2 separate regions of the Homo sapiens genome follow, and region 1 is linked to region 2. Evidence: fine-mapped expression QTL. A gene starts in region 2. The other region holds a variant in brackets. All regions are shown on one strand. Distances are between the middles of the regions. Region 1 has its middle 49 kb from the start of PCNP. Region 2 holds the start of PCNP (PEST proteolytic signal containing nuclear protein).

Region 1 (5,379 bases), 49 kb before region 2:
CTGAGTGATCCAACTGTCTTTTGTTATTCACAATGAGCCCCTTTCTCTCATTGGCCATACCTGAGTTTATGCCAAACAGGTGACTCATGGTAGGGCCCCTAATTGTTTCACAGTGGGCGCTTATCTTAGGAAAAGCCAACCTTCTAAACATTGAAAATTTCAGTCCCACCCCCTGACCTCCTGGGGAGGTAGGGGCTGGACATTGAGGTCAATCATGACCATAGATTAAATCAAAGGTGGCCACATAAGGAAACCTCTAGAAAAACTCTTAAAGAGGATCAAGGCCGGGTGCAGTGGCTCATGCCTGTAATCCCAGCACTTTGGGAGGCTGAGGCGGGTGGATCACCTGAGGTTGGGAGTTTGAGACCAGCCTGACCAACATGGAGAAACCCTGTCTCTGCTAAAAATACAAAATTAGCAAGGCATGGTGGTGCATACCTGTTATCCCAGCTACTCAGGAGGCTGAGGCAGAAGAATTGCTTGAACCTGGGAGGCAGAGGTTGAGGTGAGCCAAGATCATGCCACTGCACTCCAGCTTGGGCAACAAGAGTGAAACTCTGTCTCAAAAAAAAAAAAGAAAAAAGAAAAAAGAGGATCAGAGGAGAACTTCCTGGTTGGTGAACATATGAGGTACTGATAGTGACAAAAGGCAGTCAAATGGCTAGTCAGATAGGGGCGGGTCCCCAGTGAAACTCCATCTCCAAGCCAAAGATAGTTTAAAGCCTGAAAGCCCCAAGCTACAAGTTAAATTCTCGGACCAGATTAAGAACTTGTCTTCCCATTTGGCATGCTTTCTTCTGATTGATCCCCACCCTTCCCCTATTTTACATATACCTACCTTTTCCTAATTGGTTTTCTACACTGTCATGGCCACCTTTAAGTAGTGTCTTCGCTTTAAACTTTTTTGCACACTCACAAACCAATCAGCACACACTCATCATTCTGAGTCCATAAAAGGGCCTGGACCCAGCCACATGGGGGACTTTCCTGCCTTCAGGTAGGGGGACCACCCCCACATTCCCTCTCTGCTGAAACCTGTTTCATCACTCAGTAAAACTCCCTGCCTTGCTCACTCTTTGATTGTCAGAGCATCCTCATTCTTCTTGGGCACAGGACAAGAACTCAGGAACTGGAGTGCAAGTCAGAGTCAGCCTGGCTGGGCTGAGTGGGTGGGCCATCTCCTGCAGCAGGTAGGGTGGCCGAGTGAGACCTGAGTGGGTGTCACTGGCCGGAGGTCCCCAATCCCATGCCAGTACTGACACACTGTGACTCCACAAGGACAGAAGCTTCTGTGTTCCTCCCTGTCACACCTTGCCTTATGCATCTCTTTCACTTGGCTGTTCTTCAGCTGAATCCTTTATAATAAAACTTTAAGTACAATACTTTTTCTTTTTTTTTTTGAGACGGAGTCTCGCTCTGTCACCCAGGCTGGAGTGCAGGGGCCCGATTTCAGCTCACTGCAACCTCCACCTCCCGAATTCAAGTGATTCTCCTGCCTCACCCTCCTGAGCAGCTGGGACTACGGGCAAATTTTTTTACTTTTAGTAGAGACGGAATTTCATCATGTTAGCCAGGATGGTTTCAATCTCCTGACCTCGTGATCCGCCCACCACGGCCTCCCAAAGTGCTGGGATTACAGACATGAGCCACTGCGCCTGGCCAGTACAATACTTTTGTAGCCTGGTGCAGTGGTGCACATCTGTAATCCCAGCTACTAGGCTGAGGTGGGAGGATTGTTTGAGCCCAAGAGTTTGAGAGAAGACTGGGCAAAATAATGACCCCACGTAATTAAAAAAAAAAAAAGTAGTGTTTTTAATGAATTCTGTAAGTCATGCTAGTGAATTACCAAACCTGTGGTCAGAAGCACAGGTAGCTTTGGGATATCTAAGACTTGCACTGGCATCAGAAGTCAGGAGCAGTTTTGTGGAACAGAGCCCTCAATTTGTGGAGTCTGCATTAACTCCAGGTAGTGGCAGAACTAAATCATACAACACCCAGTTCGTGTCAGACAATTGGTGTCAAAACATAGCATTCATGTAGAGGGCTGGTCTGGATTGGAGTGGCAGAGATCAAGTTGGGAGTATCCATGTGGGAAGTATAAGGATTGGAGGCAATAAGGATTGGCTGCCTAAACAGAAGATAAAATACATAAACATATTAAGGATATCTGAAAACCACAATGAGATTCTATATCACACTGAGGTAGGAGGCGGGACTTGACTCCAGAGGTGAGGCTCAGACACCAGAACAAATTGAGGACTAACTAAAACAGGGGCTGGGAGGAAGCAGCTTTCCATAAGACATGCCCACAAGTGTGCCATGTCAGTTTACCATTGCCATGGCAACACCCAGAAGTTACCACTCATTTGCATGGCAATGACTCTGTGACCTGGAAGTTGCCACCCCTTTTCTAAAAATGTCTGCATAATCTGCCCCTTAATTTCCATATAATTAAAAGTGGGTAAAGTCTGGGCATGGTGGCTTACACCTGTAATCTCTGCACTTCTGGAGGCCCAGGCAGGAGGATCACTTGAGGCCAGGAATTCAAGACCAGCCTGGTCAACACAGCTAGACCCTGTCTCTATTTTATAAAATTTAAAAAATTAAAAATTAAATAAAATAAAATTAGATTTAAAATTTGGTTATAAATATGACTGCAGAACTGCCTCGGAGCTGTTCCTCTGGGCACACCGTCTGTGGGGTAGCCCTGCTCCACAAGGAGCAGAACCTCTGCTGCTGCTGTCCACTGCCACTTCAATAAAAGTTACCACCACCACCAGCTCACCCTTGAATTCTTTCCTGGGCAAAGCCACACACCCTCCTGGGCTAAGCCCCAATTTTGGGGCTCATCTGCACTGCATCAACACCTGTCACAATGACTATTATTAAAAAGTCTAGGCCAGGCACAGTGGCTCATGCCAATCAGCTTGCACTCCACATTCTGAGTCCATAAAAGGCCCAGACCTAGCCAAACAAGGAATTTCCTGCCTTCGGGTAGGAAATCCCAGAACTTTAGGAGGCCAAGGCAGGTGAATTGCTTGAGCCTAGGACTTCAAGACCAGCCTGGGCAACATGGTGAAAC[C/T]TTGTCCCTACAAAAAATACAAAAATTAGCTGAGCATGGTGGCATGCACCTGTAGGCCCTGCAACTCAGGAGGCTGAGGTGGAAGGATTACCTGAGTCCAGGAAGTCAAGGCAGAAGCGAGCTGTGATTGCACCACTGCATTCCAGCCTGGGCGACAGAGTGATGAGACCTTGTCTCAAAAAAAAAAAAAAAAAAAAGGATGACAAATCTGCACATGACATGTAGCCCTGAACCTAAAATAAAAGTAAAAAAAAAAAAAATCAAAAAATAACACGCTGGCAAGAGGCTGCAGAGAAAAGGGAATGCTTATACAATGCTGGTGGAAATGTAAATTAGTTCAGCCACTGTGGAAAGCAGTTTAGAGATTTCTCAAAGAACTTAAAACAGTTCTGGATCAAAACTACCATTTGATCCAGCAATCCTATTACTGAGTATACACCCAAAAAACATAAATCATTCAACCATAGAGATGCATGTACACGTATGTTCATTGCAGCACTATTCACAATAGCAAAGACGTGAAATCAACCTAGATGCCCATCAATGACGGACTGGATAAAGAAAATGTCATCTGGGCATGGTGGCTTATGCCTATAATCCCAACACTTTGAGAGGCTAAAGCAGGAGGATCGTTTGAGGCCAGGAGTTTGAGACCAGCCTGGGCAATATAGTGGGACCCTGTCTTTACAAAAAAAAATTAAAATTAAGTAGGCATGATGGTGCACACCTGTGGTCCTAGTTACTAGGGAGGCTGAGGTGGGAGGATCACTTGAAACTGGGAGGTTGAGGCTGCAGTGAGCCGTGATCTCACCAATGCACTCCAGTCTGGGTGACAGAGTGAGATCCTGAGTAAAAATAAAATAAAATGTCGTACATATACACCATGGAACACTATGCAGCTGTAAAAAAGAACAAAATCATGGCCTTTGCAGCAATACAGATGGAACTGGAGGCCATTATCCCCAGCGAATTAACACAGGAACAGAAAACCAAATATCGCATGTTCTCACTTATAAGTGGGACCTAAATATTGAGTACACATGGACACCAAGGAGGGGACAGTAACACCGAGGCCTACTTGAGGGTGGAGGTTGGGAAGAGGGTGAGGATTAAAAAACTACCTATCAGGCCTGGCGTAGTGGCTCATGCCTGTAATCCCAGCACTTTGGGAGGCTGGGGTGGGTGGATCACCTGAGGTCAGGAGTTCGAGACCAGCCTGGCCAACATGGTGAAACTTCACCTCTACTAAAAATACAAAAATTAGCTGGGCGTGGTAGTGGGTGCCTGTAATCCCAGCTACTTGGGAAACTGAGGCAGGAGAATCGCTTGAACTCAGGAGGGGGTGGTTGCAGTGAGCCAAGATTGTGCCATTGCACTCCAGCCTGGGTGACAGAAAACGACTCCATCTCAAAAAAAAAACAAAAACAAACAAACAAAAAACTCACAGAAAAACTACCTATCGAGTACTATACTCATTACCTGAGTGATGAAATAATCTGTACACTGAACCTCCATGACTGCAATTTATCTGTGTAACAAACCGGGACATGTACCCCCTGAGCCTAAAATAAAAGTTGGAAAGAAAGAAATAATAATGGCTGGGCATGAAGGCTAATGCCTGTAATCCCTGCACTTTGGGAGGCTGAGATGGGTGGATAACTCAAGGCCGGGAGTTCAAGATCAGCCTGGTCAACATAGCAAGACTCCATCTCTAATTTAAACAAAAAAATAAAAAGAAAGTAATAATTTTGATTCTGAGACAAAGAAGTTAATAGAACCAGACAGAGAGATGAACCAGTTACTGAAAAACTCTGACCAGGACTTTAGAATAATTATGGTTAATATGTTAAAGGATCCAGTGTAAAAGGTTTCCAGCCTACTTGAGCACATGGACATTTTCTGCAGAACAATGGAAACTATAAGAAAGTATTCAATGGAAATGCTAGAAATAAAAGTCATAATTTCAGGGATGAAAAATTCCTTGATGGCTTTGCCAGGATACTTGATTCATCTAAAGAAAAAAAATTTCTTTCTGACCTATGTATTAGCTTTTTTTTTTTTTTTTTTTTTTCATTTGACAGAGTCTTGCTCTGTTGCCAGGCTGGAGTGCAGTGGCACAACCTTGGCTCACTGCAACCTCCAACTCCCTAGTTCAAGTGATTCTCCTGCCTCAGCCTCCCGAGTAGCTGGGATTACAGGCACGAGTCACCACACCCAGCTAATTTTTTGTATTTTTAGTAGAGATGGGGTTTCACCATGTTGGCCAGGATGGTCTCGATCTCCTGACCTCGTGACCA
Region 2 (5,330 bases):
TAAAAATACAAAAATTGCTCCTCCACAGGAGGCCTACACGCCGCCGCTTGTGCTGCCGCCATGTCGCTAGTGATCCCTGAAAAGTTCCAGCATATTTTGCGAGTACTCAACACCAACATCGATGGGCAGCGGAAAATAGCCTTTGCCATCACTGCCATTAAGGGTGTGGGCCGAAGATATGCTCATGTGGTGTTGAGGAAAGCAGACACTGACCTCACCAAGAGGGCGGGAGAACTCACTGATGATGAGGTGGAACGTGTGATCACCGTTATGCAGAATCCACGCCAGTACAAGATCCCAGACTGGTTCTTGAACAGACAGAAGGATGTAAAGGATGGAAAATATAGCCAGGTCCTAGCCAATGGTCTGGACAACAAGCTCCGTGAAGACCTGGAGCGACTGAAGAAGATTCGGGCCCATAGAGGGCTGCGTCACTTCTGGGGCCTTCGTGTCCGAGGCCAGCACACCAAGACCACTGGCCGCCGTGGCCGCACCGTGGGTGTGTCCAAGAAGAAATAAGTCTGTAGGCCTTGTCTGTTAATAAATAGTTTATATACCTATGAAAAAAATAAAAAATAAAAAAAATAAAAAATAAAAATACAAAAATTAGCTGGGCGTGGTGGCCCGCGCCTGTAGTCCCAGCTACTTGGGAGGCTGAGGCAGGAAAATCACTTGAATCGGGGAGACGGAGTTTGCAGTGCGCCCAGGTCACGCCACTGCATTCCAGCCTGGCGACAGAGCTCCATCTCAAAAAAAAAAAAAAGGAAACCATTCATAAAAAAAAAAAACTTATACTTCCAACTTAGTAGACTGCTCGACAGGAATTAAAATTCAGAATATTCTCTAGTTAAGCCCCTAAGACAAACTTGACAGTGTTTTCAAAAAAGTGACTATCTGCCACAAAATTACCAATTTTGCAATATCCATGGTATGACATATTTTAACTATGATTCCTATGCACAATTTCATTAAAAATATCTGACATTCAAAAATGGCTTAAACTTAACAGCACTACTTTCTTGTAACGGCAAGGAGACAAATTATGTAGAAGTTAAGGGATATTTACTTACTCTAAGTTACCAAGAAAAAGACCATAATAATTTTTCTGATACCAATTAGCAAAGTAATTCTCTACTACTTCTCCCCACATGCTAAAATGGAAACATCAATATTCATACTATAGAACTAATAACCCTCAACTGAAAGAATGGCAGGTAAATTATACAGTGGATTTATAATGACACTCAAGGTACATTTTGACAGCACATTAAACACGTCTGCTACCCTCGGTCAAGACAGTTAACGAGATGGCCTTAAAATCAACACATGATTCTTTAGGCTTTTCCTCAAACTACGTCTAAAATTTTTTGCTTTTCCTCAAACTACTTTTAAACTTTTATGTAATTTTATCCCACAATTTCCAATACAATTTTTTTGGGAAAAAAAATTCCCTAGTGAGAAAGTAGTAGATGGTTTAAATTTAAATTGTTCTTTCATAAGGTATTTTACTAGTTATAAAAAAAAAAAAAGACAGGGGGTGGGGAGGGAAGAGAGAGATGGAGTTCCAGCTTAACTAACAGAATTGTACGTGTTTTTTAAAAAGGAAATCCTGGGTCCAAAGTAATTAACATTACACTTAATCTTTTCAATAATTTTTGTTCCCAAGGCAATTAACATGAAACATTATGTTAGTAGGTCTACTAGTGGCCTTCATATGCTATTAATCGTTTCTATTTTCTCATATTAAATAATTTCGGGAATGATAACTAAGGTGGTCAGAATAGAGAATAATGTTTAAAATGTTCTAAAAACATTTTAAACAGCTCGCACGTGTTAAGTCACTTGTCTTGTTATGTGCAAAGAGGGAGCTGGAGAGATTACGTTTCTTTTCCTTCACGCACAAGACCCGAATTTAGGGAGTGGAATGGACAGAATAAGGATAGCTGTAACCTGAGTTTAACGTCGTAACAAAATACAGGAAGAGTCACGCTAGACTATTTAGTCGCCTAAGTATCTGGCAAGCGGTCAGCTGGCAACAGCCTAAGGGAGATACTTCAAAGAAAAGCAACCAAACCTTAGCCCTAGACCCCGCAGCTTAAACCAGAGGGCAGGCAAAGGCATTCCTCTTCCCCTCCATCACCTCGGCCCATCCTGTCACAGGGTCAATATTAAACTTGGAAGTAAAGGAAAGAGAGCAGGCCGGAGTTGTCCACCTCCTCAGTGAAAAGGGAGCAGCAAGCGTAATTAACTCCTGCGTGTAACTGAGAGGCCGGCACCGTCAGAAACTCAGCCTGCGGCCAGTTCCCGCGGCAACTACTCGGTGGCTCGCACTGTGTGTATGTTATGTCTCATGAGCGTCTCCGGTGTGTGTGTTTTGTGTGATGTGCGTCTCCGGTGTGGCGGTAGCGGCTCCTGCACCGCCGCTCCTGGTCCCACCCCGAGTTCGGTCTCCCTTTCTGGCGCCCATCTCCCTTCTCCTCGGAATCAGGGCCTCCGCTGGGGCCAGGAGGTGACGAACAGTGGCCGGCTCTCCCCAGGCAAGGAGGCGATGTAGGCCCGGAGCCCAGAGGGCCGCATCGGGCGTGCCCGAGGCAGGTCTGGGCCCAACACCTGGCCGGGTGAGGTCCAGATCCGCCCATTCTCGCCCCACCCCACTCCCCCCACCCTGGGAGCTCAAAGAAAGGCCCGGAGCATCCCACGCTGCCCACGACGCTGGGGTTGTGTTCACCTCCGGCGGCTCCAGCTCGCTGCGACTTTTCAGGCTTCTCGTCTCCCGCCTTCCCGTCCGCCATTTTCCCCGCCGCGGCCTCCCCTGCAGCCACGCCAAGGACGTCACGACCCCGCCCAACAACCATCGAGTTTTTGGGGCCAGCCGGCGTGGTGGCAGCCTAGAGCGGTCCCGAGGAATGAAAAGAGGCCGCCTTCGGAAGCGGAAGTGGATGTGATGTCATCGAGTAGCCGCCTCGGAAGGAAGAGCTGGGAAGGTTGGGCGGTCTAAGAGTGCTGGCTAGGCACTTTATTAGAGGGCAGTCAGGTCTTCATGGTCTAGCGACAGGTCCGGAGAAGTGAGGGGAAATGGAGCATCTCCCTGGAAACGCTGGGATCTTAGAAGGTTTCTGCATACCCAGATGTGGTTGCAGCTGAGGCTGAGAGTGTCTTCCGTTCCGGCCTTGCTGGATAACGCATGCCTGCCAACTCTATGTAAACAAAAAGCCTGCATTCTTTTTCCCTAAAGGGGAAATCAGTGTTTATCTAGCGCCCCCTAGCTTCAGACGCCTTTCATACACTCGTTTAATCACGGCGATTGTCCAAATATAGAATTCTCCTCTCAATTACCTGTAAGAGTTGAGGTCAGAGAGAGTAATTTGTCTAAGTCACGTAGCCAACTGTAAAGTTACTTTTTGTATAGTCTGCTTCTACCAAGTTGAGAAACTACTATGTCAAGTTAAGACTGCAGTAATTTCTGCCTTAATAAGAAACCTTTAGTGGATTCCTACAGTCTGCATTCTGAAGTCCGTGAGTTACATTAGGCCCTAGCCTACCTTTTCGGCTTCATCTTCCCCCTTTCTCAGTATTTATCCAGCCCTCCTAGCCAAATGGGGTCTATTACTTGCTTAGGGAACTGGAGTTTCTGGGTTTGTCTTACCATATATAGTTAGAGAAAGTCTTAGGAGTCAGAACTTGGATTTGAATCTGTTTTGCCCTTTCCTGCTTGAGTAACCTTGAGACTTGCTTACTGCCTACAGAGCTACCTTTTCTTCTCTATAAAAGAGCAATAATAATAGTACCTCCTCAAAGAGTGGTAATAGGGATCAAATGAGATCATCTTTGTATACCATTATTTGGTCACTTCATACTTCCCTCAGTTTGTGTGTGTGTGTGTGTGTGTGTGTGTTTTAAGTGTTGTCTCTCTGAATGGCTCAAAAGTTCCTTGACAACAGAGACCAGTTTTTAAAAACTGTGTACTGTGCGTTTCATATATGAATATAAAAAGTGTTCAATATTTGCGGATGGATTACTTCTCGGGCTTCAAGTCCAGGGAGTGGAGAAAGAATGAAGAAATTATCAAAGTGTGTTTCCCATGACAGAAGCAGGGCAGTGTGGTGGTGATTTTGTGATCTAGGTTGAAGTCCCTGATCCATCATTTATCATATATGTAAAAGTAACCAGCAAACTATCTTACAGGTACTTAATTCATGTTTGTTTCATTTTCCTTGTGATCTTTTCAAGGTAATCATTGAGACTCTCGTTTCTATCATTTTAAAAATGGAGATATACACGAAGATTTTTATTTGAGATTATGTATTTACAGATGCTTGTAATTTTTTATGGGGGGTGGAATGGAGTCTCTCATTCTGTCACCCAGGCTGGAGTGCAATGGCATGGTCTTGGCTCACTGCAACCTCCGCCTCCTGGGTTCAAGCGATTCTCCTGCCTCAGCCTCTCGAGTAGCTGGGACAACAGGCGCGTGCCACCACACCCGGCTAATGTTTGTATTTTTAGTAGAGACGGGGTTTCACTATGTTGGCCAGGCTGGTCTCGAACTCCTGACTTTGTGATCCGCCCACCTTAGCCTCCCTAAGTGCTGGGATTACAGGCGTGAGCCACCGTGCCCGGCCGATGCTTGTAATTTTTAAGTGAAGAAGATAAAGCTCAGAGAAGTCACATACCTATTTAGGAGCGGATCCAGTTCCCATATACCACACTGCAGAAGTTAAGGATGCATGTGCAGGACTAGGTATGAAAGGAAAAAAACGAAACAAAAAAAGGATGAAGATAGTAATCCATTCACCTTTCAGTTCTGTGAGTTTCATGAGGTGTGCCTGTCTTGTTCACCACTGTTTCCCCAGCACCTGGATTATACTAGTCTGGATAAATATCTATTGAAGAAATTAATGCAAGCTTCAGTAACCTCCTACAAACGGGTTAGGAAATGGAAAGGTAGTGTAGTATGAAGGGGTGGAAAGGGGGTGATCACTTTCCTCCCCATCAAAAGAGTCATGACAACATGCTTGTTAATAAAAGACAGGTTAACAAGAGAAAATTAATGTGCATAAGCATGGGAATGATACAACAAAATAAGAAAACTAAAAAAAGGGTCAGATGGTTGAAGTTTAATACTTTTCATAGGGGAGAGAGAGGTGGGGGGGCTACAGGCAATTTTAGAGGAGTAGTAAATGATTTTAGGAGAGATTAATGCAGAAATTCACTTGTAAATTATTCTCTTTGTAAACCAAGTGAAACTAGAGAACCAATAATAATTCGAAGGCCAGTCGTGGTGACTCACTCCCATAATCCCAGCTACTAGGGAGGCTGAGATAGAAGGATCA

The links. PIP is the estimated chance that this variant, and not a neighbour inherited with it, causes the effect.
Region 1: its variant is fine-mapped to the expression of PCNP in whole blood (INTERVAL, PIP 0.92).

Annotation. Positions count from the first base shown.
Region 1 is chr3:101,620,815-101,626,193 of GRCh38, reverse strand. No RefSeq gene overlaps it. Among named protein-coding and RNA genes, the nearest start is that of PCNP, 49 kb to the right of the region's middle. The variant C/T (reference allele first, on the strand shown) is at 3,083.
Region 2 is chr3:101,571,678-101,577,007 of GRCh38, reverse strand. PCNP (PEST proteolytic signal containing nuclear protein) reads right to left here and starts at 2,828. Exons shown (of 5, transcript NM_020357.3): 1 at 2,729-2,828. The coding sequence starts at 2,792. It also overlaps the pseudogene RPS18P5. RefSeq lists enhancers at 2,309-2,468, 2,489-2,648, 2,729-2,858, 2,959-3,228, 2,672-3,617.